Homo sapiens: one gene and its partners. The protein of the gene in region 1 purifies or fractionates together with the protein of each later gene. This does not show direct contact. Each region holds a gene or a part of one and is shown in the gene's direction. Other genes may lie near its edges.

Region 1 (7,035 bases):
GTGTCTCTAACTAGAATAATAATAATGGGTGTTTGGTAATTCCAAACACCCATTTCCAACAGGCCAAATAAAATACGTTATATATTAGTAAAATTTTTATTTCTTTTTTTTTTTGGAGACAGTCTTGCTCTGTTGCCCAGGCTGGAGTGCAATGGCATGATCTCAGCTCACTGCAACCTCCGCCTCCTGGGTTCACCGGGTTCAAGTGATTCTCCTGCCTCAGCCTCCTGAGTATCTGGGATTACAGGCACCCACTACCACGCCCAGCTAATTTTTGTATTTCTAGTAGAGATGGGGTTTCACCATGTTGGCCAGGCTGGTCTCGAGCTCCTGATCTCAGGTGATCCGCCCGCCTTGGCCTCCCAAAGTGCTGGGATTGCACACGAGCCACCGCGCCCGGCCATAGTAAAAATCTGTAAGTTTTTCAATTAAGTCACAAATCAAAAACATTTCAGATTATGGGCCGGGCACAGTGGCTCACGCCTGTAATCCCAGCACTTTGGGAGGCCGAGGCGGTCGGATCACGAGGTCAGGAGTTTGAGACCAGCCTGACCAACATGGTGAAACCCCGTCTCTACTAAAAATACAAAAATTAGCCGGGCGTGGTGCCGTGTGCCTGTAGTCCCAGCTACTCAGGAGGCTGAGGCAGGAGAATCGCTTGATCCCAGAAGGCAGAGGTTGCAGTGAGCTGAGATCACACCATTGCACTCCGGCCTGGGTGCCAGACTGAGACTCTGTCTCAAAAAAAGAAAAAAAAAAGAAACCAAAAATGTTTTAGATTATGTGCCAAGATGTTTTTAATAACAGCTTTGAGGTATAATCCACATACCATACAATGTACTTAAATTGTATATTATAATTCAGTGATTTTTAGAATATTCAGAGTTGTGCAATCATCACTGCAATCAATTTTAGAACATTTTTATCACCCCTTTAAAATCCCATTAGCAGTCAATCCCCTTTCACCCCATGGTCCAAATTCTCCCCAGCCGCAACTACAAATCTACTTTTCGGCTAGGCAAGGTGGCGCACACCTATAATTCCAGCACTTTGGGAGCCCAAGGTGGGAGGACTACTTGAGCCCAGGAGTTCAAGAACAGCTTGGGCAACATAGAGAGACTCTACCTCTTAAAAAAAAAAAAAAAATTATTTATTTATTTATTTATTTATTTTATTTTTTATTTTATTTTATTTTATTTTTTGAGATGGAGTCTCACTCTGTCACCCAGGCTGGAGTGCAGTGACGTGATCTCAGGTCACTGCAACCTCCACCTCCCGGATTCAAGCAATTCTCCTGCCTCAGCCTCCCGAGTAGCTGAGATTACAGGTGCCCACCACCACACCCAGCTAATTTTTGTATTTTTAGTAGAGACGGGGTTTCACCATATTGGCCAGGCTGGTCTCAAACTCCTGACCTCGTGATCCGCCGGTCTTGGCACCCAAAGTGCTGGGATTACAGGAGTGATCCACCGCACCCGGCCTAAAAAAAAATTTTATTGTTTAAGTTAGCTGGGTGTGGTGGCTCACATCTGTAGTCCCAGCTACTCCGGAGGCTCAGGTGGGAGGATCACCTGAGCCTAGGAAGTTGGGGCTGCAGTGAGCCATGATCATGTTACTGCACTCCAGCCTAGGTGAAAGAGGGAGACCCTGTCTCAAAAAACCATACAAACCCCAAATCTACTTTTTACCTATTCTGGATATTTCATAAAAACGGAACCGTAGCTCTGGTCTTTTGTGACTTGCTTCTTTGACTTAACATAATGTTTTCAAGGTTTATTGCCAAATAATATTCCATTGTATGCCTATATACTACATTTTATTTACCCATTCATAAGTTGATGGCCATTTGTATTTTTTTTTTCACTTTTTGGCTATTATAAGTAATGCTGCTATAAACAGTTGTGTAGTTTTTGTATAAATGTGTTTTCATTTCTTTTGGGCAAATACCCAGTAATAAAATTGCTGAGTTGTATGAACTCTGTTAAACTGAGGGGCCGGGTGCAGTGGCTCATGTCTGTTATCCCAACACTTTGGGAGGCCGAGGTGGGAGGATTGCTTGGGCCCAGGAGTTCAAGACCAGCCTGAGCAACATGGCAAACCTTAAAAAAAAAAAAAAAAAAAAAAATTAGCCAAGCACGATGGCACGTCTATGGTCCCAGCTACTTGGGAGACTAAGGTAGGAGAATTGCTTGAGCCCAGGGCGTTGAGGCTGCGTTGAGCTATGATCACACCACTGCACTCCAGCCCAGGTGACAGTGAGGCCCTGTCTCAAAAAACAAAAAATCAATTGAGGAACTACCAGACTATTTTCCAAAGAGGCTGTACCGTCTTGCATGCCCACAAGCAGTGTCTGAGGGTTCTAGTTCCTCTAGATTCTCACCAATACTTTTTGCTATATATTTTTTTTTATTATACCATCCTGTTGGCTATGAAGTGGTTTTGATTTGCATTTCCCTAATGACTAATATTGAGCATCTTTTCATGTGCTTATTGGCCATTTTTATATCTTCTTTGGAGAAATGTCTATTCAGATTCTTTGCCCATTGTGCTAGATTTTTTTACTCAGAAAAACGATCACTTTACCTTCTAGATGTGTTACAGAGATAGGCAGCCCTGCTTGTAAACCTTCGTCAGGATCCAGAGTGCATAATACCTCTATTAGGTTAGGTAGGTTAGGAGCATAGGACCCTTTGGGAGGAATTCAGGGCCATTCATTTTATATCTATTGAACAACTACTGTGAGTTAGGGTGTGGTAAAATGAAGATGAATAAGATGTGGTGGTCCTTGCCCTTGAGTTTATGGTCTACTAGGGGGCTTGGGGGGAATGGTGAGTGACAAGTCCACAGCTCTCCAGAGGAGGTGGTGGCATATAGACGGAACTGAATGTACAAAGCGCGGTGGCATCAGAAAATGAGAGTTGCATGTGGTTTATTGAGGGGCATTGTTCAGGAAATGCCCGGGAAGTTCAGCTGGCCAGAGACCTGGGGAGTGTCAAGTGGGAGAGATTAGCAGACAGACTCGGAGAGAGGTTTTAGAAGGCCTTTCTACAGAAGGTGGTTGAACTATTTCCTGAGGGCAGTGGAGCCTTTGAAGGGGAGTAGTTAAGCGGGGATCTGATGGGATTTATTATGAACAACTAGCTGTTATGTGGAGATTGGCTGGGCAGGGGTAGGTCTGTCAGACTGAGGAGACTGGGATACTTAAGTAATGACCTTCAGAGCAGTGCCCCTGGCTGGCCTGTCTGGAAGCCAGGGTTTTGCATCCAGATCGAATATTGGCCACAGATTGGATCTTAAAAGTTATTTTTAATAAAATGGTAATATTAGGATTTTAACTTGTGCATTCTTTTGTCTTCAAAATGAAGTGCAAAAGGAGTGTTTGCCTGGGGAAGCTCTTTAGTTGGACTTTAGTTGAGATTATGTTAAATAAATGCCTTACTTACTGTTAACATTTCTCTTTTTTTCCTTTAAGTTCTGTTGGACTTGAACTGTTAACATTTCTAAAGTGAAGGGAGTACCGTAAATTCTTTTAAACGTTTGTCAGTATTTGGGTATTGGTATGGCCATCTGGTATAGGCAACAGGTATTTGTGTAGAAATGTTTCTTCAACAAGGACGGGCAACCTCTAAACTAGGATTTCGTGGCTGGAGATATTTTGGATGTGAATGTATTAACAGCTTTGGAGAGACACATTGTTAGAGATCCAGGCTGGTGACTTGTAGAACCACCGAAAGCTCTGAGACAGAAAGGGGCTAATGAAAGTCTCTAGTTGCAGTTGGGTGTGGATGGCACACAAAGACCTTAAGTGTTTAGGTGATTTGCTGCAGGCTTCTCGGCCGACTGGAAGCAGAGCACATCTAGATTGTAGTTTCTCTGGTGCCAGGGCAGTCTTAGTTGTCCTGTTATACCTAAGAAAAGGGAGAAAAATTTCTATTCTTTAAATGTTCTGTAAAGCAGACTAATTGTGATAATTTTTAAAGTAAGCTGTTCTTAAAAGATAAGATACAGAAGCCAGTTAAATTTGTATTTTAGATAAATAATTTTTTGTTAAAATAAGCTTTTGGTAATTGAAGAATAACATACATTCAGAAACGTACAGAAATCAAGTGTAAACTCAGTGAATTGTTCACAGTTGATGCACCTGTGTAAGCAGCAACCCAGAAGCCCTCTACCAGTCACTGCCTCCCCTGAGCCAAAAGAACTACTATCCTGACTTCTGAAAGCATTGATTAGTTTGGCCTGGTTTTGTTTTTGCTTTTTTTGTTTTCGTTTTTGAGATAGGGTGTTGCTTTGGAGTGCAGTGATCATAGCTCACTGCAGCCTCATCCTCTCAGGCTCAAGCAATCCTCCCACCTCAGCCTCCTGAGTAGCTGGGACTATAGGCATACGTCACCGTGCCCGGCTAATTTTTTTTTTTTTTTTTTTTTTAAGACGCAGAGTCTCACTATGTTGCCCAGAATGATCTGAAACTCCTGGGCTCAAACAGTTTTCCTGCCTCGGCCTTGCAAGGTGCTAGGAATACAGGCGTGAACTACCGTGCCTGGCCAGTTTTGCCTGTTTTTGAACTCTCTGTCAACGGAATCACATAGTGATACACATTTGCATATCTAGTGGCATTTGCTCAGCCTAAAGTGTTTTTTTTTTCCTTCCTCTTCCCCTTACAACTATTTTTTAGTTGTTTATTTTACTTCATTAAAAAAATGAAAAGATTTGAGGTATAATTCATACACAGTAAAACAGACTCGCTTTACAGGTAGTTTCAATTGTATACTGTTGTATAATCGCCATCAAGATCTAGAACTATTTCATCACCCCAAAAAAGTAAAATAAATAAATAAATAAAATAGAAATATAATAATTTGAGCTTTATCCATATCATGTGTAGTGTGTTCATTTTCTTTTTTGACAGTTTCGCTCTGTCGCCCAAGCTGGAGTACAGTGGTACAATCTTGGCTCACTGCAACCTTGGCTCACTGCAAACCCTGCCTCCCGGGTTCAAGCGATTCTCCTGCCTCAGCCGCCCCAGTAGCTGGGATTACAGGCGCACCACCACACCCAGCTAATTTTTTGTGTTTTTAGTAGAGACAGGGTTTCCCCATGTTGGCCAGGCTGGTCTCCTGACCTCAAGTGATCTGCTCCCCTCGGCCTCCCAGAGTCCTGGAATTACAGGTGTGAGCCACTGCACCCAGCCAGTTTGTTCATTTTCATTGCTGCATTAGTGCATTGTAGGAATGTACTATTCATTCTGTTGATAGACATCTAGGCTGTTTCTGTTTCCCTGCTATTATGAGTAGTGCTTCTCTAACCATTCTCATATATGTCTTTGGTGAACGTATGTGTTCATTTCTGCTAGGTATGTATGTAGAGGTAGAACTGCTGGGTTCAGCTTTAGTAGATAGACTGCCAACAGTTTTTAAAATAGTTGTACCAATTTACACCATGCCAGCAGCATATGAAAGTTCTCACTTTTCTATATACTCACCAACACTTAATGCTGTCTTTTTAACTTTAGCCATTCTTTGAGCTGCTAGTTGTAATTTAAGAAGAATAGGCCAGGCATGGTAGCTCACGCCTGTAATCCCAGCAATTTGGGAGGCCGAGGCAGGTGGATCACTTGAGGTCAGGAGTTCGAGACCAGCGTGGCCAACGTAGTGAAACCCCATCTCAATGGCTTTTTAACTTTAGCCATTCTTTGAGCTGCCGGTTGCAATTTAAGAATACTAGGCCCGGGCGCAGTGGCTCATGCCTGTAATCCCAGCACTTTGGGAGGCCGAGGTGGGTGGATTTTTGTGTTTTTGTAAAAATACAAAAATTAGCTGGGTGTGGTGGCACACACCTGTAATCTGAGCTACTTGGGAGGCTGAAGCAGGAGAATCACTTGAACCTGGGAGGCGGAGGTTGCAGTGAGCTGAGATCTCACCACTGCACTCCAGCCAGGGCAACGGAGCGAGACTCTGTCTCAAAAAAAAAAAAGAAAATAAAAATAAATAAATTAATTAAATAAAATGGCAAGGCACAGTGGCTCACATATGTAATCCTAGCACTTTGGGAGGCCGAGGAGGGCGGATCACTTGAGGCCGGGAATTCAAGACCCACCTGGCTAACATGGCGAAACCCCAACTCTACTAAAAATACAAAAATTAGCTGGGTGTGGTAGCACCTGCCTATAGTCCCACCTACTCGGGAGGCTGAGTCAGGAGAATCATTTGAACGCAAAAGGTAGAGGTTGCAGTGAGCCAAAATTGCACCACTGCACTCCAGCCTGGGCGACAGAGCAAGATGCTGTCTCAAAAAAAAAGAAAAAACAAAAAAAAAACACCAAAAAAATAGTAATAAATTGCCAAACATTTTGCAGGAGTTTCTCACCAGCAAGTTCTTGTGTTAGTTTATTTTACCAACATCTTTTGTCCGGTTTTTCTTTAGTAAAAGTATTTATAATTCTGTATTATACTTCCATAGGTAGATCATTGTTGAAAGTCCAGAAGGTTGAGCTTCCATGATGTAATATGATATGAAATCTTGTATTGCTAGTGGCATTTGGTAGGAAAAGGGATGGGGAGTGGTTAAAGGTGAATTAAGCTGAATGCTTGTTTTCAATTTGTTTTTTTCTCGAGGCCACTGAGAAGCTAGTCTTTTTAGTTCTCGAAAATAGTGCTTTTAGTCCAGAGGCTGTGACTGATGTAACTAACAGGCCTTAGTTTTTGGTTTTCAGTGAGGTGCTGGCGGAGGAGTCCATAGTATGTCTGCAGAAAGCCCTAAATCACCTTCGGGAAATATGGGAGCTAATTGGGATTCCAGAGGACCAGCGGTTACAAAGAACTGAGGTGGTAAAGAAGCATATCAAGGTGGGTTGAATAGTACTGGTCTCTGCATTGGACCAGGGTAAGGATGTTGGTGTCTCACCCGAGATAGCATACAGAAGGGACATGTGATCATCGGCATTAGGATAGCACAGGCTCTTCCTGTTTGGTTTGGTTTGGTTTTGAAGTCCCTTCTTGAAATTTGAGGAGGCTGGGTGCGGTGGCTCATGCCTGT
Region 2 (7,035 bases), on another chromosome or scaffold:
TTATGGCTTAATAGCATCCCATGGTGTATATATACCACATTTTCTGTATCCACTCATTGGTTGATGGGCACTTTGGTTGGTTCCATATCTTTGCAATTGCAAATTGTGCTATAAACACGCATGTGCATATGTCTTTTTCATATAATGACTTCTTTTTATTTGGGTAGATACGCAGTAGTGGGATTGCTGGATCGAATGGTAGTTCTACTTTTAGTTCTTGAAGGAATCTCTATACTGTTTTCCATAGCAGCTGTACTAATTTACATTCCCACCAGCAGTGTAAAAGTGTTCCCACAACCATGCCAAAATCTATTGTTTTCTGATTTTTTTAACAATGACAATTTTTGCAGGAGTAAGGTAATATCTCATTGTGGTTTTAATTTGCATTTCCTTGATGATTAGTGATATTAGTGCCCTTTAAAAAGCAACTCCAGTAGGGTTCTCCAGAAGAGTCCCATTCTCCATGTGAGGCCCCATCAAGAAGACAGCCATCTATGAAGCCTCACCAGACACCAAATTTGTTGGTGACTTGATCTTGCATTCCCAGTCTCCAGAGCTCTAAGAGATAATATCTATTGTTTATAACCCACCCAGTTTATGGCATTTTGTTACAGCAGCCTGAATGGGCTAAGACAGTATGTGTGTAAATTACCTTTTTAGCACTGTGTTTGCTGCAATCTATAAGTTTTAATATGCTGTGTTTTTTATTTCATTTGTCTCAAGATAATTTCTAAATTTCCTCGTGACTTCTTCTTTGATTCATTGGTTAGTTAAGAGTATGTTGTTTAATTTTGCAAAGATTGGGAAAATTTGTGATTTTTTAAAAGTTTTCCTTCTGTTAATTCCTTTCATGTGACTTGATAAGATGCTTTGTATAATTTCTGTCTTTTAAAGTTAATTAATACTTCTCTTCTGGCCTAATATATGGTCCATCCTTGAGAATGTTCCATGTGCACTTGAGAAAAATGTGTGTTCTTCTGCCGTTGGATGGAGTTTCCTGTATATGTCTGCTAGATCCAGTTAATTTGTGGTGGTGTTCGAGTCCTCCATTTTCTTATTGATCTTCTCTCTGGTTTTTCTACTCGTTATTGAAAGTGGTATATTAAATTCTCCAACTATTGCTGTAGAACTGTACAGTTCTTCCTTAAATTCTGACAATGTTTGCTTCATGTATTTTGGGGCTCTGAGGTTTATTGCTTATATGTTTATGATTATTATATCTTCTTGGTGAATTGACCCTTCTATTAATAGACAATATCATTTTTTATCTTTTGCAATTATTTTTAACTTAAACTTTATTTTGACCGGGCATCGTGGCTCACGCCTGTAATCCCAGCAGTTTGGGAGGCCGAGGCAGGTGGATCACTTGAGGTCAGGAGTTTGAGACCAGCCTGATAAACATGGAGAAACCCCATCTCTACTAAAAATAAAAAAGATTAGCCGGGCACGGTGGTATGCGCCTGTAATCCCAGCTACTGGAGGCGGAGGTTGTGGTGAGCTGAGATCGTGCCATTGCACTCCAGCCTGGGCAACAAGAGCGAAACTCTGACTCAAAAAAAAAAAAAAACAAGTTTTTTCTGTCGGATATTAGTATAACAACCCACAACCCAAGCTCTCTTTTGGTTACAATTCACAGGGAATATATTTTTATCCATCCTTTAACTTTCAACATATTTGTGTCTTTTTTTTTTTTTTTTTGAGTTGGAGTCTCCCTCTGTTTCCAGGCTGCAGTGCAGTGGTGCGATTTCAGCTCACTGCAATATCTGACTTCCTGGTTCAAGTGATTCTCTTGCCTCAGCCTCCCCAGTAGCTGGGATTACAGGCACACACCACCACACCCAGCTAATTTTTGTATTTTTAGCAGAGACGGGGTTTCACCATGTTGGCCAGGATGGTCTCCATCTCCTGACCTCATGATCCACCCGCCTCAGCCTCCAAAAATGCTGGGATTACAGTTGTGAGCCACCACGCCCAGTGGAATTCGTGTCTTTAAATCTAAAATGAATCTCTTGTAGATAGTGTATATTTGGATCGTGTTTTATTATCCACTTAGCCAATTCCTTCCTTTGGATTGGAAAGCTTACTCCACCTACATTTAAAGTAATTACTGATAAGGAAGGACTTCTACCATTTTGCTATTTGTCTTCTGTGTGGCTTAATATTTTCTGGCCCTCATTTCCTTTATAACTGCCTTCTTTTACGTTTAGTTTCCTTTTTGTAGTGACACATTTTTTCCCTTCTGATTTTCTTTTGTTTATATTCTACAGATATTTTCTTTATGATTACTATATTACATACAACATCCTAAGGTTGTAACAATCTAATTTGAATTAATACCTACTTAACTTCAATTGTATAAAAAAAAACTGTACTCCTGTATGGTTCCATCTTCCATTTATGTTGTTGATGTCATCTTGTACCTCTCAACTCAGTCCATAAAGGCACTCACATTGATCTAATATCATGAGTGGAAAACAGTATTACTTGCCATAAACAGAAGGCATTTATAACCATAACTATAGGCTTAAAAAAAACAATTTTCTCATAGTCTCCCTAAATCCTATTCTCATTGGAAGCTCTGATCCTGAAGCATGTCTTCCTCTTGAGACTTCCAGAGAGTTCAAAGCATATCAGCACTAAACTAAGAATCAACTTGATATACTCAGAACAATCAGAAGTGAATCCAAAAAGGGATGTAATTTGATGTTTTTAAAATGTTTTTTTCGGGTAGCTCTTAAAACCATTTCATGTTCCACAAGAGCTATTGCTTAGGGGTCAAGTGAATCGGTCATGAAGCAAGAATTAAATTCAAATATCAACCCTCTCAGTGAGCAGCTGAGTGACTCTGAGCAAGCAAATGTGCCTCCCTCAAGCTTAGGTTTTTTTCTTATTTAAAATGGGCGACAAAAAAAGTGCCAACTTCACACAAAAACATGTATGCAAATGTACATAGCAGCTTTACTCTAAATAGTCAAAACCTGAAGACAACAATCCAGATGGCTTTCAACAGGTAAATGGTTAAACAAAAACTCAGCTACATCCATAACATGGAATACTGTTCAGCAACAAAAAGGATCAAACCGTTTGTGCATGCAACTTGGATGAATCTCTGGGGGATTATGCTGAGAAAAAAAAAAACAGTCCCAAACAGTTATATGCTGTATGATTCTATTTATATAACATTCTTGAAACAGCAAAATTATAAAAATAGAGAACAAATTAGTTGTTAGCAAGGGGTCAGGGAAGGTGAGAGGAGAGGAAGAGGAAATGAGAGGGAGGTGGGTGTGGTTATAAAAGAGCACCATCAGAGATCTTCCTGATGAGGTGGGGAATGCACAAACCTACATATGTGATAAAACTGCATACAACTAAATACACAGACACACAAGTGAAATGGGACATCTGAAGACTGGTGGATTGTATCAAGGTCAGTATTCTGCCTAAGATACTGATCATATGGTTTTGCAAGATGGTACCACTGTGGAAAACTAGTGAAGAGTACAGGGCATCGATCCACATTATTTTTTATAACTACATGCCATCCACATTTGTCTTAAAATGAAAAGTTAACTTAAAAACATACTAGACTCATAGGCTTTCTGTGAGGATGAAATGAGATAGTATTTAGGGAAGAAAATTCCCTCAGCAAATGTTTATTGACCCCTCTCATCTGTCCAGGCTCTATGTGAATGCTGAGCTTATAGCAGTAAGCAAGGTTCACACCATAATGGAAATTTCATTCTAGTGTAGTGTCACACAAAATGAATATATATATATATATATATATATATATATATATATATATATATATATATATATGTATACATACAGAGAGAGAGAGAGAGAGAGAGAGAGAGAGAGAGATGAAGTCTCACTCTGTTGCCCAAGCTGGATTGCAGTGGCGCGATCTTGGCTCACTGCAACCTCCACCTCCCAGGTTCAAGCGATTCTCCTGCCTCAGCCTCCCCAGTAGCTGGGATTACAGGCATGCACCACCATGCCCAGCTAATTTTTGTATTTTTAGTAGAGATGGGGTTTCACTATGTTGGGCAGGCTGGCCTTGAACTCCTGACCTCATGATCCACCCACCTCAGCCTCCCAAAGTGTTGGGATTACAGGCGTGAGCCACCGCACGTGGCAGAATTGATATTTTTAAACATTGTCATTGAAATTGGTTTAATCACAACCACTCATAGAGCAGTCGCATGCATCATGCGCTACATGTAATGAAAATAGACTCAGAAATGGCAAAACTTGCCCAGGTACCGAGTAGAAACAGAGGCAGAATTCAAACCCAGATTGGAACCCAAGGTTGTGGCTCATCACCTCTAAATTCACTGCCTTCAACAAAGGAGCTCTCTTCTTTTTGCAGGGTGACCCAGAGAAGACAGCTAAAGTGGAATGTGGGGACTTCTACAACACTGGGGACAGAGGTAAGATGGATGAAGAGGGCTACATTTGTTTCCTGGGGAGGAGTGATGACATCATTAATGCCTCTGGGTAGGTGTGGCTGATGCTGGGCTGGCTGTTGTTGCCGTCACATGCCTCACGGAATTTTGCTTACCTAGACATTTTTTCACGCATTGGTGAAATTTCAGCCTAAATCTGAATAGAGCCGTGTCTATGGTGCCCTGATTCCAGGCTTCAGTATACCTCCCGAACCTTCTCTGCACGCAGAAGAATCAAGCAAAATGAAATTCAAGAGGGTCTGGAAGAGGAGCCATAATAAGACACTGTGCAATTTACAGTGGGGTGGGGGGAGTGGAATTGAGAAGGGAGACTCTGTCTTGGTCTCCATAGGTTCAGGGAGCCTATTTCATGTTTGTGCCCCTCTAATGCAGCACCAAATGTCACAGGACAAACATAGTAATAATAATAGCTAACCTTTAGCTATTGTTTATTTTTATTATTATGAATATATTTGTTATACATCTATGAGCATAATAAATCTATTATTATAAAATTATTTATTAGTATAAATATATTATTTACTGTAACTATTTAGCTAACCTGGAGTACTTACTATGTGAAAACACTGTCCTTAATGCTTTATATAACCCACCTCTCAAAGCTGGATGGGAGATGTGATTATTATCCCTATTTTACTAACGAGGAAAGTGGGTCACTGACCGGCAAGGAAATTTGCCTAAAGATTCAAAGATAGCACAGGATGCAATCCAGATTTGAACTGAGGTAGTCTGGCTCTGAGTCCCTGTCCCTACCCCTACATGATTTTTAAAAAGGCGCATTACACTACAGTAACAATTTCCCTTGGATATTTTAGAGAAATTGATGGCATTTTTATTTTTTTATTTTATTTTTTATTTTATTTTATTTTATTTTATTTTTCTGAGACAGAGTCTCCCACTGTCACCCAGGCTGGAGTGCAGTGGCCTGATCTTGGTTCACTGCAAGCTCTGCTTCCTGGCTTCAAGTGAGCATGTCCAGCTAATTTTTATACTTTTAGTAGAGATGGGGTTTCACCATCTTGGCCAGCCTGGTCTTGAACTCCTGACCTCCATTGATCCCCCTGTTTCAGCCTCCCACAGTGCTAAAATTACAGGTGTGAGCCACCATGCCCAGCCTGGATGGGATTTTATTTTAAATTTCTAAAACATGATGTACTGGAAATTTGCACAAAGAGTAGATTTTATGTTCTTACCACAAAAGAAAAAAAAGGCAATTATGTGAGACGATGGATATGCTAGTGTGCTTGAGTGTTTTAATCGCGTTACTATGTATATGTACATCAAAACATCATGTTGTAAGCCTTAAGTATATATAATAAAAGCCGAAAATCCTGCTGATACAATGGGAAATAGTATGCAGAATTTGCATGAATGTTTAAGACCAAGTTTGAGGCTTCCAAGAGATTTCGTGTTGGGGGAAGCTGCTTGGGCCAAGCTCTGAGGAGACAAAACATTAGCCGTCCTCCATCAGTACAGGCAGTGAGGCAAGAAGCCGGGAGCACCGCAGTCTTGTATTTCTCAGCCTATAATGTCCAGGTCTTTACACTTTGGGCCCATGACACAGACAAGTCAGGGGTCCCTGGCTTCCTATGACCTCCACCCTCTGTGCCAAAGGAAGCTGTGACTCCAAAGCAGGAGATCTGGGGACTTGGTTCACCCCAGCCCTGGCATCTGCCTCAGAACCCTTCATCCTCCAGGTATCGCATCGGGCCTGCAGAGGTTGAAAGCGCTTTGGTGGAGCACCCAGCGGTGGCGGAGTCAGCCGTGGTGGGCAGCCCAGACCCGATTCGAGGGGAGGTGAGGAGAACACAGAGATCATCATGTCTGTGCGTGGGCACTAGGAAAGCAGGTGCAGGGGAAACATCCAGGCTTTACCTGTGCAGCCTTGGTGGAAGGGCATAGTGTGCATGTGCGTTTACACGGTATGGCACCAGGGGACAGTGTGGACTCTCTGTGGCTCTGAATAAAAGGATGCTAGATACTATGTAATGAGCACTTATATATGCCAAATCACTTAACTCTCACACAATGTAGTAATCTAAGAACACTTATGCTTTTTATAGATGAGGAAAGAGAAGCAGGAGGAGGTTAAGTAACCTCTCCACATCACCCAGCTAGAGTAAGGGGTGGAGGCAGAATGGCATCTCAGCAATGTGGCTCCCGAACATACATGCATTTGTATATTGAAAAGTGTTATTAGGCCGGGCACGGTGGCTCATGCCTGTAATTCCAATGTTTTGGGAGGCTGAGGTGGACCGATCACCTGAGGTCAGGAGTTCAAGACCAGGCTGGCCAACATGGTGAAACCCCACCTCTACTAAAAATACAAAAAAAATTAGCCAGGTGTGGTGGGGGCAGGTGGGTGGAATGGGGGGTGGGCGCCTGTAGTCCCAGCTACTTGAGAGGCTGAGGCAGGAGAATCGCTTGAACCTGGGAGGCTGAGGTTGCAGTGAGCCAAGATCACACCACTGCACGCCAGTCTGGGCGACAAGAATGAAACTCCATCTGAAAAAAAAAAGTCTTTATTAATCACCTTCTATATGTGAGACCTTGTGCAATAAAACTT
Region 3 (3,097 bases), on another chromosome or scaffold:
GAGGCAGAGGTTGCAGTGAGCTGAGATTGCACCATTGCACTGCAGCTTGGGCAACAAGAGCAACTGTATTTTTTTTTACACATGTGCCATTTTTGCAAAATATATTTTCCAAAACAAATGAGCAGGAATGGCATTGGTTTTTCCATTTTTGCAAATCTCTTCAGTCTGGCTGACGGAAGACGGCTGGACCCACATGCCTCGTGCCTTCTGGAGATCCTCCCAGGCTCCTGCGGACTGAGTGACGAGGCAGATAGTGTCTATATTACTGTTGAACCACACAGACCTGAAAGGGCCTCGGGGACCCCCAGCCATGCTGACCACACCCCAAGAGCTGGGGCCCAGATGGAAAGACAGGGAGATTGTCCTGGCTGGCTTTGATGGGTGGAGCTCAAACCAGATAGAGGACAAGGGGGCCTGGCCACCCGCACAGACACTCCCAGACACAGAGAACAGGCAGGGGGCTTCCAGACCCCTTCCCAAGCAGTTCTCTGGGTTTGTCGGACACAGGAAGAGGAAGCTGCTCACCTTTGTCCCTAAGCCCAGGGCCTGTGCCCTGTGTGGCTGGTCTGGAACAGCCTTGCTGCCCTTGCCTGGGGTTGGAACCAGGGCCTCTGGGGTCCTGCGGACCTTTGTTCTCGCACCAGCCTTGGGCCTGCGCTGGGCAGTGGCCCCCCCCTCGGTTGCCGCGCCTCCCTCCTAACATTGCCAGAGTGAAACACTCCTAGTCTCTCGGCTTTGCTTGTATTTCTTTACTGCCATGTCTTTCTTGTTGTTCCGTATTTGAAGACCCATGTGATAAATTTCTTCAAAGCTAGGAAGGAGTTTTGTCTCTCTGCGTGAGATATTGGCTGCTTGCTGGAACCTGGGGCCCAGGTTTGGCCTCAGCCTCATTTCCAGATGCCTTGGTGCCCACATCTCTCTTCTCCTACTTGGCTCTCCCCTTTTTATTTCTTTATAAAAATGAAGGTGGTGAACTAAGCAGCCTCAGGCTTTAGAAGTGAGTCCCTGGCATCGGTGAGGCCACCCACACAGCCATTCCCTGTACATCAGGAGGGTGGTCTCACTCTGTACCTATCACCCAGGTTCTCGGGACCGGAAGTCAGGTGGGAGACTGGGCTCCCCGAAGCCAGAGCGGCAGAGAGGCCAGAACTCCAAAGCCCCTGCAGCCCCGGCTGACAGGTGAGTCCCACCCAGCATGTGCCCTGGGCACACCGAGGGGGCCAGCCCCAGTCGCTTCCCCAGGGAGGCCAGCAGCAGCAGGGCTAGCACTGGGCCAGGCTGGAGGCGTCACTACAGCTCCTGCTGGTCTGACGGGGTGAGGGGCATGGACAGCGAATTGCAGCCCCACCCCCCACCCCCCCCCACACACACACACACGCTCCTGCCCTGGTTGAGGCTGGAGGGTGCCCTCTGCTCCGCATGCCCTTGGGCAAAAGATCCCTGGGCACAGAGGTGGGAAGAATAACAGGAGGTTGTGCGGGGCCAGCCCAGGACCCTCCCAGTCTGCTCCACAAAGCCCGGGAGCCAGTGGCTAGGACCAGGCCTGCTTGTGGCAGTGGGAGCCTGGCCATCCAGGGAGCCCCTTGCCTGTCCTGGTGGCCGCTGAGGACACAGTGGAAGCGCCCCTACGGGGAGGTCACCCCTTCCACCTGCAGACGTGGCTTCTGGGGGCTCAAGGTCTTCCCCACCCCCTTGTAGGAAGCGCCAGCTGTCACCCCAGTCCAAGAGCTCCAGCAAGGTCACGAGCGTGCCCGGCAAAGCCTCGGATCCCGGCGCCGCCAGCACCAAATCAGGGAAGGCCAGCACGCTGTCTCGGCGGGAGGAGCTGCTGAAACAGCTGAAGGCCGTGGAGGATGCTATTGCACGCAAGCGGGCCAAGATCCCCGGGAAAGCATAGGCCGTGCCCCGACCGGACTGGACGCATTTTTATACATAGGGTAAGCGCAGCCATTTTGGATTTTGCAGTTAATGTCTTATTTTGGCTGTGATTCTTTTTAAAAAGTAAAAAAGAAAAAAAAGTTTCTCAGCTGGAAAAGAAGCCACACAGGAAATGACAACGACGCTGAATCCCAGCCTCCCTCCCCAGAGCAGAAGTCCCGCAGGACAGACAGACACAGACAGCGCTAGTGACCAGCACGGTTCTCATGTAAATTACAAGCCCCAGCCGCCAGCCCCGCCTTCTCTTCCTCCTCCTCCGTCTTCTTCCCTGGCCCTGGTCAGGCCTGTGGAGCCCCAGCTCTGGGTCCCTAGCCCGGGTCCAGGCAGCCAGGCTCCCTCCTGAGCTGAGAAACGGAACCTCGCGAACCACTGGTGGCACATCCTTCTCCTCCCCCGCCCCTGATCACCCGCCCCCGGATCAGAAATATATCTATATTCTCGACTAAAGTCTCATCAGGAAATATTTCCTGTCTTTTATTTTAAGCATCAAATTGTTTTAGTTGATTTAAAAAGGAAAAAATACAGAAAAGACCAAAAAAAGGCCAAGGGTGTTGTTGGGGCGTCTGTCTAATGTGGTGGGTCTTTTTTTGAGGGGTCTCCTAAAATAAAATATTTTGATAAGCAGCTGTCCTTGCCCTCGTGGTGTGTGCGCCCTCTGCCCATGCGCAGCCGGGGCTGCCTCTGTGTCGTGCACTGCACTCGGCCCAGCACTCGGGAGCCGCTGGGGGGCGAGGGTGTGGCTGTGCACTCACTCCCCCCGGGAGGACCGGCTGTGGAGCAGCTCCTGCCTTCAGACCCAGCCCAGGAGAGCATTGCGCCTCAGTTTCCCCATTCGTGGGGCTGGGTTGGGGCTTCCTTGGTCCGTGAGGTGGAGGTACTTTCCCTGCAGGGGCCGTGGAGCTGCTGGAGGGGAAGAGGTCCAGGGCTGACTCCCAGCCCCAAGCCCAGCTGCCACCACTGCAGTGACCACCACCGGCTCCGTGTGCAGGCCCCAGACCTGCTGAGCCAGGCCCCGCGTGTGATGCCACGTTCCACAGCAGGGGCCACCGGCAGAGCCCCCCAGGACCCACCGCTGCTGCTCCCTGCTTTCCACCTTGAAAGCCACAGGCCTGCGCCTGGGCAGCGGCCTCCCAGGTGCACGCTCCAGGGCCTCCAGCGC
Region 4 (7,944 bases), on another chromosome or scaffold:
CAAATAAGCACTTCATATGAAAGGAAACACAAGGCCAGGCGTGGTGGCTCATGCCTGTAATCCTAGCATTTTGGGAGGCTGAGATGGGCGGATCACAATGTCAGGAGTTTGAGACCAGCCTGACCAACATGGTGAAACCTTGTGTCTACTAAAATATAAAAATTAGCTGGGCGTGGTGGCATGCACCTGTAATCCCAGCTACTTGGGAGGCTGAGGCAGGAGAATTGCTTGAACCTGGGAGGCAGAGATTGCAATGAGCCAAGATCACACCATTGCACTCCAGCCTGGGCAATAAGAGAGAAACTCCGTCTCAAAAAAAAAAAAAAAAAAAAAAAAGGAAACACAGATGATTAAAAAACATAGACGAGAAATTAGATCCCAGCTTGACAATGCTTCCCAATGTTGATCAATTGCCTGCCCTATGCCCAAGCACTTCTGTCCATGTGTACCTGGAGTCATGCACAATGCTCAGCAAACACCTGGAAACACCCAAATGTGCATCAGCAAGACACTGGATCAACACACTGTGATATAGTCACACACTGAAATAGTCCACATGGCCAGAATGGAGTATAGAGGCATGCAACAATATGGGTAAATCTTTTCTTAATATTAAGAAAAAAGAAGTCCCAACAAATTTTGTAAAGCAAGAAACCCCCCTCCTTTTTTTTTTTTTTTTTTGAGACAGTCTTGCTCTGTTGCCCAGGCTGGAGTGCAGTGGTGTGATCTTGGCTCACTGCAACCTCCACCTCCTGGGTTCAAGTGATTCTCCTGCCTCAGCCTCCCAAGAAGCTGGGATTATAGGCATGCACCACCACGCCTGGCTAATTTTTGTATTTTTAACAGAGGCTGGGTTTCACCATGTTGGCCAGGCTGGTCTTGAACTCCTGGCCTCAAGCAATCCACCCGCCTCAGCCTCCCAAAGTGTTGGGATTACAGGCGTGAGCCACCACGTCCAGCAGGATGCCTTTTTTTTTTTTATAAAGTTAAGAACAACTAAAATGAAAAGATATAGTTTGAAGGAATATATAGTTTGAAGGAATATGTTTGAAGGAAAGCAAGAGAATGCTGAACACAGGATTTGAGATGATGATTTTCTGATTTTCTGTGTGGTGGGACAGCAGGAGGATGGGAGCAGAAGAACTGTATAATGAGATGTGAATTATTTTAAAGGTCCTAGTTGTATTGTTTTGTTTTTTGGCGAAAGCCAATTAAATAACTGATGAGAATGTATCATTATCAAAATATTATAAAGAATTTAATCCTGTGTGCTTAAGGTCTAATTATATAGGAAAGGGGGCAATCTCAGATAGTTTCTATTTGGCTTTGCAATGGAGTCAGAAGAGTCAGATTTCCCCCTAAGACAGCTCCTTCATGGAGCTCATTGCTTCTTGTCCCCGCACTCATCATTTCTCTCCCTCTTAAGTACAGTTGCTCCTCGACTTACGATGAGGTTACATCCCAATAAACCCACTGAAAATATTATAAGTCAAAAAGACATTTAATACACCTAGCCTACCAAACATCAGAGCTTAGCCTAACCCACCTTAAACAGGCCCAGAACACTTCCATAGCCTAGAGTTGGACAAAAATCATCTAACACAAAGCCTATTTTATAATAAAATGCTGAATATCTCATGTAATTTATTGAATACTGAAAGTGAAAAACAGAATGATTATATGTGTGCTCAAAGTATGGTTTCTACTGGATGTACATAGCTTTTGCATCATCATAAAGTCAAAAAATCATTAAGTTGAAATATCATGAGCTGGGGACTTATCTGTACCCGAAGCCCACCAAAGCCCATCACTGGCCATGACCTGTGACCTTCAAAACCTTCCCATCTTGATTTCCCCAAGGGATTCCACGGTCCTCACCTCACTAGATCACCATGACTCACTGGGTAGATGGGCTATTGTTTTCATTACCCTTTCATAGGTGAGGAGCCTGGGGCCCAGAGAAAAGGGGGTGAGCTGCGGAAGGTGAGCCTGGCTTCAAAACCCCAGCGTAGGGTTTCTCTCCACTCTGGTGCCCAGTGCTCCCAGCCCCCTATCAAATAAGTCTTCTTGGGGCTAAAAATTGCTGTACATAATTACCAAGCACCATTAAAATTCCAGATCTCTTCTGTTCATGGAAGATAACTTTGTCTTATACTGGATCATAAGGAGCTGGGGGTGGGAGGGTTCCTGAAGCACTGGAAGCAATCAAGCCACTCTCAGATTGGGTGAGCTTCCCTTTGGACAGAGACCCAGTCTAGATCCTTAAACACCCCCCTCCCCACCAAGGGGATTCCTGAGCCAAAGGCCCCAGCCAGCTCACCTCAAGGCCAAGCCACAGGACTCTGGGAGCCCATGACCTGAACCTCCACTCCTCTCTATCCACTTGCCCATCTGTGATATGGGATAAGGGTTTCTGTCCCAGAACTGACAGGGAGGTGGAAAAGTACAAATTTCAGATAGTAAGAGTCATCATTATGGGGGGAGAGAGTGACTCCTGGGATGAGAGTCCTGTCCCCCACCCCTCCACAACCCACCCCTCCACAACTCACCCCTCCACAACTCACCCCTCCCCAACTCACCCCTCCACAACTCACCCCACAGCACACACCAAAACTTGCCCCAAAGAGCAGAAAGAAAATACTAAAGGAGGTGAGAGTCTGACATCAAATGCCAGAGCCAGAGAGGGCACTCTTGGGGAACCTGAACCACTCCTCACTTTTCAGACACCCCACTCCTCACTTTTCAGACACCAGCAAGTGCAGGGATTTACCCAAGGTCACAGAGTAAGGCCGAACAGAGAGGCACAGGCCAGCAGGGCTCTCTTTTATCAATTTCCTAGAGAAAAGGGAGAGATTTACTCCTTGGCCCCCTTGAGGCAGAGCTGAGATGAGGTTGAGGTGAGGGACTCCCTGGATGCTGGTCTCAACACAGAGAGGAAGCACTTTCTTGCTACAGAGATATTCCACAACTCAAGAGGCTGCCCAGAGAGTGGAGAGTGACCTCCTCATCCTGTGGGGTATATGAGTAGCAAGCAGGTTCTGGAGTCCCGGCTGAGTCCTCTCTCTCTCATTCGGTAGTCAGGCAATCCCTGGGTGTCTACCATCCTTTCCTATCCTCCTGCCTGCCCCTCTCCTCTGAACCCCGTCTCCTAGCCTAGTCTGGCCCAGCTACATCTCCTTGGCTGGACCTGGTGGCAGTGGGGTTGGCTGGGTAATGCACAGACTGCTGACCTAACTATGTGTCCCCGAGGCCTTGCTACTGGGGGTTGGAGGGGCCAGGGCAGTTTGACCAGGCCTGAAGAAGGCTGGGCAGCGCTGGAGGGGCATGGGTCAGACCAGGTTATCCTCTGTTCCTGAGGAGAGTGAGCTCAGGCCCAAGGAGGAGAAGGAGGAGACTGGGGGCTCAAAGGAACGAGAACCTCCTTCTTCATCAGGATTTGGGGGTGCATCTCAGAGCTGGCTGGAGGAGCATGGTGTTTGAAGCCCCTGAAATCTGAATTTTAGCAGGAGCTGCTATTTCCTGACTTGCATAGTGGTCAAAGTTACTTCTCCTTCACGGTCCACAGAGAAGGGGTAATAATATTTGTCCCCAAGGGTGGTTTGTGGATTTTAAAAAATAAGTTAAATAATATTGCCCATACATTATAGGTACTCCATACATTTTCATTCGTTCGTTCATTCGTTAGTTGGGCCGGGAGGATGAATGGGATCTAGAGGCAGGTGGGAATGCGGAAGGGGATGATGCCCCAATACCGAGAACAATGTGAGACTCAGACGGAGGCAGGGGCGGGAGGGGAGCTCAAGCGAGGGATCAGCGTGAAGCCAGAGAAACAACCGACACTTTTCCTGCCAAGAAGGTGAAGCAGCTGCGGGTAAGAGTATAGGTTTGGCAGTGGGAAGTCGAGGGCGTTCCCGTCGAAGCTCCTTTTGTGTATAAGGCCTAAGAAGGGGCAGTGCGCTTTGCGAAGGTCTGAAAAAGACTAAGGGGATTAGGTAACGACTGAAAGGAAGTTTTCACAACTCTCCGTTTTTGGGGGATGGGTGCTGCTTTATCCGTCCAGGACTCCGTGCGTTGGGAAAATCACGCCGCGAGGGGGCGCAAGAGCCGCGTACTCCAGAGCAAGAAGAAAAGGCTCGGGGATCCAGGCGGAGAGTCCAGGAGAAGAGCCGCCAGACTGCAGGGGCAGGTGGAAGGCGTGGCAGCTGGAAAAGTAGGGGTGGGGGCGCGGTCGTGAAGGGTGGGACTTCTGGAGCAACGCTGGGCGGGTTGGGGGCCGGTCGGAGCCGGACAGGCGGCTGGGAGGTGGGATGGGCGGGGCGCTTGGGAGCGAGATGGGGGGACAAGGGCGTGGCTACAGCTAAATTCGCCGCAGAGGGCGGGCGGGGAGGGGGAGGGAAGGGGAGGAGGCGTGGCCTGGGCGGGGAGTAGGGCGCGACGGACCCTTCAGTTAGCCCGCGGCTCCCCGGGCTCTCCCTGGCGCCGAGTCCCACCCCTTTCCCGGCCCAGAGAGTGTGCGTCTGCGTGCACCTGAGTGTCAGTGTGTACGAGAGTTTGTGAGTCCGAGGTTGCCATGTTGGAGCCCCTGGGCAGGAGGTGTTTCCGCGCGGAGGCTGGTGGCCCGCGGTGGACGCGGCGCCCTGGCTGCGAGTCTGCGGAGCTGAGCACGCTCAGCGGTTGTGTGTGTCTCAGCGACTCCCTGGGGGCAGCTCGGCCTGCTGGGCTCCCGAGGGACCTCTCTGGAGGGCCAGAGGGTCGCCTCAGTCTGCAAGTCCTCCAGCAGGCTTTTTCTTCTTCGGCTCCTCCCTGATTCCCTCCCACCACGCGGTTCCCAGGCTCGCGCACGCCCGGAGCCCACCCCCTCTTTTGGGCGCGAGGCCCCGCCCCCCGCCCCCTTGCCTCTGCCGCAAAGTTTATTTGCAACAAAAGGGTGCCAGGAGCGAGCAGCCAAGGGCGTTGGGCAGGCGGACGCAGAGTCGAGGAACCAAGCGCTGGGATCCCGCCCAGGCGGTGCCGCGGTGCCCCTGGTCGCTCCAGCCGCGGCGGGGGCTGGGCCTGGGGGTCGGCGCTGAGGCGGGAGGGGCCGCCCGGGATGGAGACGTTGCGGCCGGTGGCCACAGAAACTTGAGCCGCGGCAGAGAAACCTCTGCTCCGGTCTCTGCGTCCTCTTCCCACACTCCCGTGCGCTGCTTTCGGCGTGGGCCGCTGCGCTCCTAGGGAGTGGGGGCGCAGGGGGGGTTGGCCGCGGCTGCCCGAGGCCAGCCCCCCCGGAGTGAGTTACGCCACTATGGCGGACGGGGCACCCCGGCCCCAGCTTTACCGCAGCGTCTCGTTCAAGCTGCTGGAGCGCTGGAGCGGCGGCCCCGGGCTGAGGGAGGAGGACACGGACACCCCCGGCTTGAGGCGACGCGCCTCGTGCCGGCCGACCACGGCTGCCCGGGGCCAGCCCTCTCGGCGCGTGTCCAAGCTGGCGTCTGGGCCCCTGGCCGCCCCCGCGCAGCCGCGCCCGCTCCGCAGCCTCTCGCCGTCGGTTCGCCAGCTCTCCCGGCGCTTCGACGCGCCGCGTCTGGACGACGGCTCCGCTGGGACCCGAGACGGAGGCGTCTTACCCGCGGCCGCGGAAGAAGCGGCCGAGGGCCCAGCGCGAGGAGCCTGGCCCAGCGTCACCGAGATGCGCAAGCTCTTCGGCGGTCCTGGCTCCAGGAGGCCCAGCGCCGACTCTGAATCCCCAGGAACGCCCAGCCCCGACGGTGCCGCGTGGGAGCCTCCGGCTCGGGAGTCGCGGCAGCCACCGACGCCACCCCCTCGGACATGCTTCCCCCTGGCGGGTCTGCGTTCGGCGCGGCCCCTGACCGGGCCGGAGACCGAAGGGAGGCTGCGCCGGCCGCAGCAGCAACAGGAGCGGGCGCAGCGTCCAGCGGATGGTTTACATTCTTGGCATATCTTCTCCCAACCGCAGGCCGGGGCCCGGGCCTCCTGCTCCTCCTCCTCCATCGCCGCCTCCTATCCTGTCAGCCGCAGTCGTGCTGCCAGCTCCAGCGAGGAGGAAGAGGAGGGCCCGCCGCAGCTGCCTGGAGCCCAGAGTCCGGCCTACCACGGCGGCCACTCCTCGGGCAGTGACGACGACCGAGACGGTGAGGGCGGCCACCGCTGGGGAGGGAGGCCCGGGCTCAGGCCTGGAAGCTCCCTATTGGATCAGGACTGCAGGCCTGACAGTGATGGGTTAAATCTAAGCAGCATGAACTCAGCAGGGGTTTCTGGGAGCCCTGAGCCCCCAACATCTCCAAGAGCCCCTAGAGAAGAAGGACTCCGGGAGTGGGGTAGTGGCTCTCCGCCCTGCGTCCCAGGTCCCCAGGAGGGACTTCGGCCTATGTCTGACTCTGTGGGAGGAGCTTTCCGTGTGGCCAAGGTGAGCTTTCCCTCGTACCTGGCCAGCCCCGCAGGCTCCCGCGGTAGCAGCCGTTATTCCAGCACGGAGACCCTCAAGGACGACGACCTATGGTCTAGTAGGGGTTCTGGGGGCTGGGGCGTGTACCGCTCCCCTAGCTTTGGAGCTGGGGAAGGGCTCCTGCGGTCCCAGGCTCGAACCCGTGCCAAAGGACCTGGAGGCACCTCTAGGGCATTGAGGGATGGAGGATTTGAGCCTGAAAAGAGTCGACAGCGGAAGTCCCTGTCAAATCCAGATATCGCCTCAGAGACCCTGACGCTTCTCAGTTTCCTGCGCTCAGACCTTTCAGAGCTGAGGGTCCGAAAACCTGGTGGGAGCTCCGGGGACCGTGGAAGCAACCCCCTAGATGGCAGAGACTCACCATCCGCAGGTGGCCCTGTGGGGCAACTTGAACCCATACCCATCCCAGCCCCAGCATCACCTGGCACGCGCCCCACACTCAAGGACTTGACAGCCACTCTGCGGAGAGCAAAGTCATTCACCTGCTCTGAGAAGCCCATGGCCCGCCGCCTGCCCCGCACCAGTGCTCTGAAGTCCAGCTCCTCCGAGCTCCTGCTCACAGGCCCTGGTGCCGAGGAGGATCCGCTGCCCCTCATCGTCCAGGACCAATATGTGCAGGAGGCCCGCCAGGTTTTTGAGAAGATCCAGCGCATGGGTGCCCAACAAGATGATGGAAGCGATGCCCCCCCTGGAAGCCCTGACTGGGCAGGGGATGTGACCCGAGGGCAGCGGTCCCAGGAGGAGCTCTCAGGCCCTGAGTCCAGTCTGACAGATGAAGGCATTGGGGCAGACCCTGAGCCTCCTGTTGCAGCATTTTGCGGCCTGGGTACCACAGGGATGTGGCGACCTCTTTCCTCATCCTCGGCCCAGACGAACCACCATGGCCCTGGGACTGAGGACAGTCTGGGCGGGTGGGCCCTGGTGTCGCCTGAGACCCCTCCCACACCAGGTGCCCTCCGCCGACGACGCAAAGTCCCACCTTCAGGTTCTGGTGGGAGCGAATTGAGCAATGGGGAGGCAGGGGAGGCCTACAGGTCCCTGAGTGACCCAATTCCTCAGCGCCACCGGGCTGCCACCTCTGAAGAGCCTACTGGGTTCTCTGTGGACAGCAACCTCCTGGGCTCACTGAGCCCCAAGACAGGGCTCCCTGCCACCTCAGCCATGGATGAGGGCTTGACCAGTGGTCACAGTGACTGGTCTGTGGGCAGTGAAGAGAGCAAGGGATATCAGGAGGTTATTCAGAGCATAGTTCAGGGGCCTGGCACCCTGGGGCGTGTGGTGGACGACAGGATTGCTGGCAAAGCCCCCAAGAAGAAATCCCTGAGTGACCCCAGCCGCCGTGGGGAGCTGGCTGGGCCTGGATTCGAGGGCCCTGGAGGGGAGCCCATCCGAGAAGTTGAGCCCATGCTGCCTCCATCCAGCAGCGAGCCCATCCTTGTAGAGCAGCGGGCAGAGCCAGAAGAACCTGGTGCCACCAGGAGCCGGGCACAGTCTGAAAG

What was found.
Region 2: the proteins of PRC1 (region 1) and ACSM1 purify together in Homo sapiens (affinity purification with mass spectrometry; 2 studies listed by BioGRID and IntAct, with this or other methods). This does not show direct contact.
Region 3: the proteins of PRC1 (region 1) and ZC3H18 purify together in Homo sapiens (affinity purification with mass spectrometry; 2 studies listed by BioGRID). This does not show direct contact.
Region 4: the proteins of PRC1 (region 1) and ARHGEF17 purify together in Homo sapiens (affinity purification with mass spectrometry; 2 studies listed by BioGRID and IntAct, with this or other methods). This does not show direct contact.

Annotation. Positions count from the first base shown.
Region 1 is NC_000015.10:90,984,503-90,991,537, reverse strand, and holds part of PRC1 (protein regulator of cytokinesis 1), read left to right. Parts: intron 1-2,913; exon of another isoform or gene 2,914-3,908; intron 3,909-6,712; coding exon 6,713-6,845; intron 6,846-7,035. UniProt on the Homo sapiens protein: Key regulator of cytokinesis that cross-links antiparrallel microtubules at an average distance of 35 nM. Essential for controlling the spatiotemporal formation of the midzone and successful cytokinesis.
Region 2 is NC_000016.10:20,624,654-20,631,688, reverse strand, and holds part of ACSM1 (acyl-coenzyme A synthetase ACSM1, mitochondrial), read left to right. Parts: intron 1-4,372; coding exon 4,373-4,500; intron 4,501-4,598; coding exon of another isoform or gene 4,599-4,613; exon of another isoform or gene 4,614-4,966; intron 4,967-6,166; coding exon 6,167-6,266; intron 6,267-7,035. UniProt on the Homo sapiens protein: Catalyzes the activation of fatty acids by CoA to produce an acyl-CoA, the first step in fatty acid metabolism.
Region 3 is NC_000016.10:88,629,403-88,632,499, forward strand, and holds the end of ZC3H18 (zinc finger CCCH domain-containing protein 18), read left to right. Parts: intron 1-1,082; coding exon 1,083-1,179; intron 1,180-1,698; coding exon 1,699-1,897; 3' UTR 1,898-2,562; downstream 2,563-3,097.
Region 4 is NC_000011.10:73,303,355-73,311,298, forward strand, and holds the start of ARHGEF17 (rho guanine nucleotide exchange factor 17), read left to right. Parts: upstream 1-4,921; 5' UTR 4,922-5,284; coding exon 5,285-7,944. UniProt on the Homo sapiens protein: Acts as a guanine nucleotide exchange factor (GEF) for RhoA GTPases.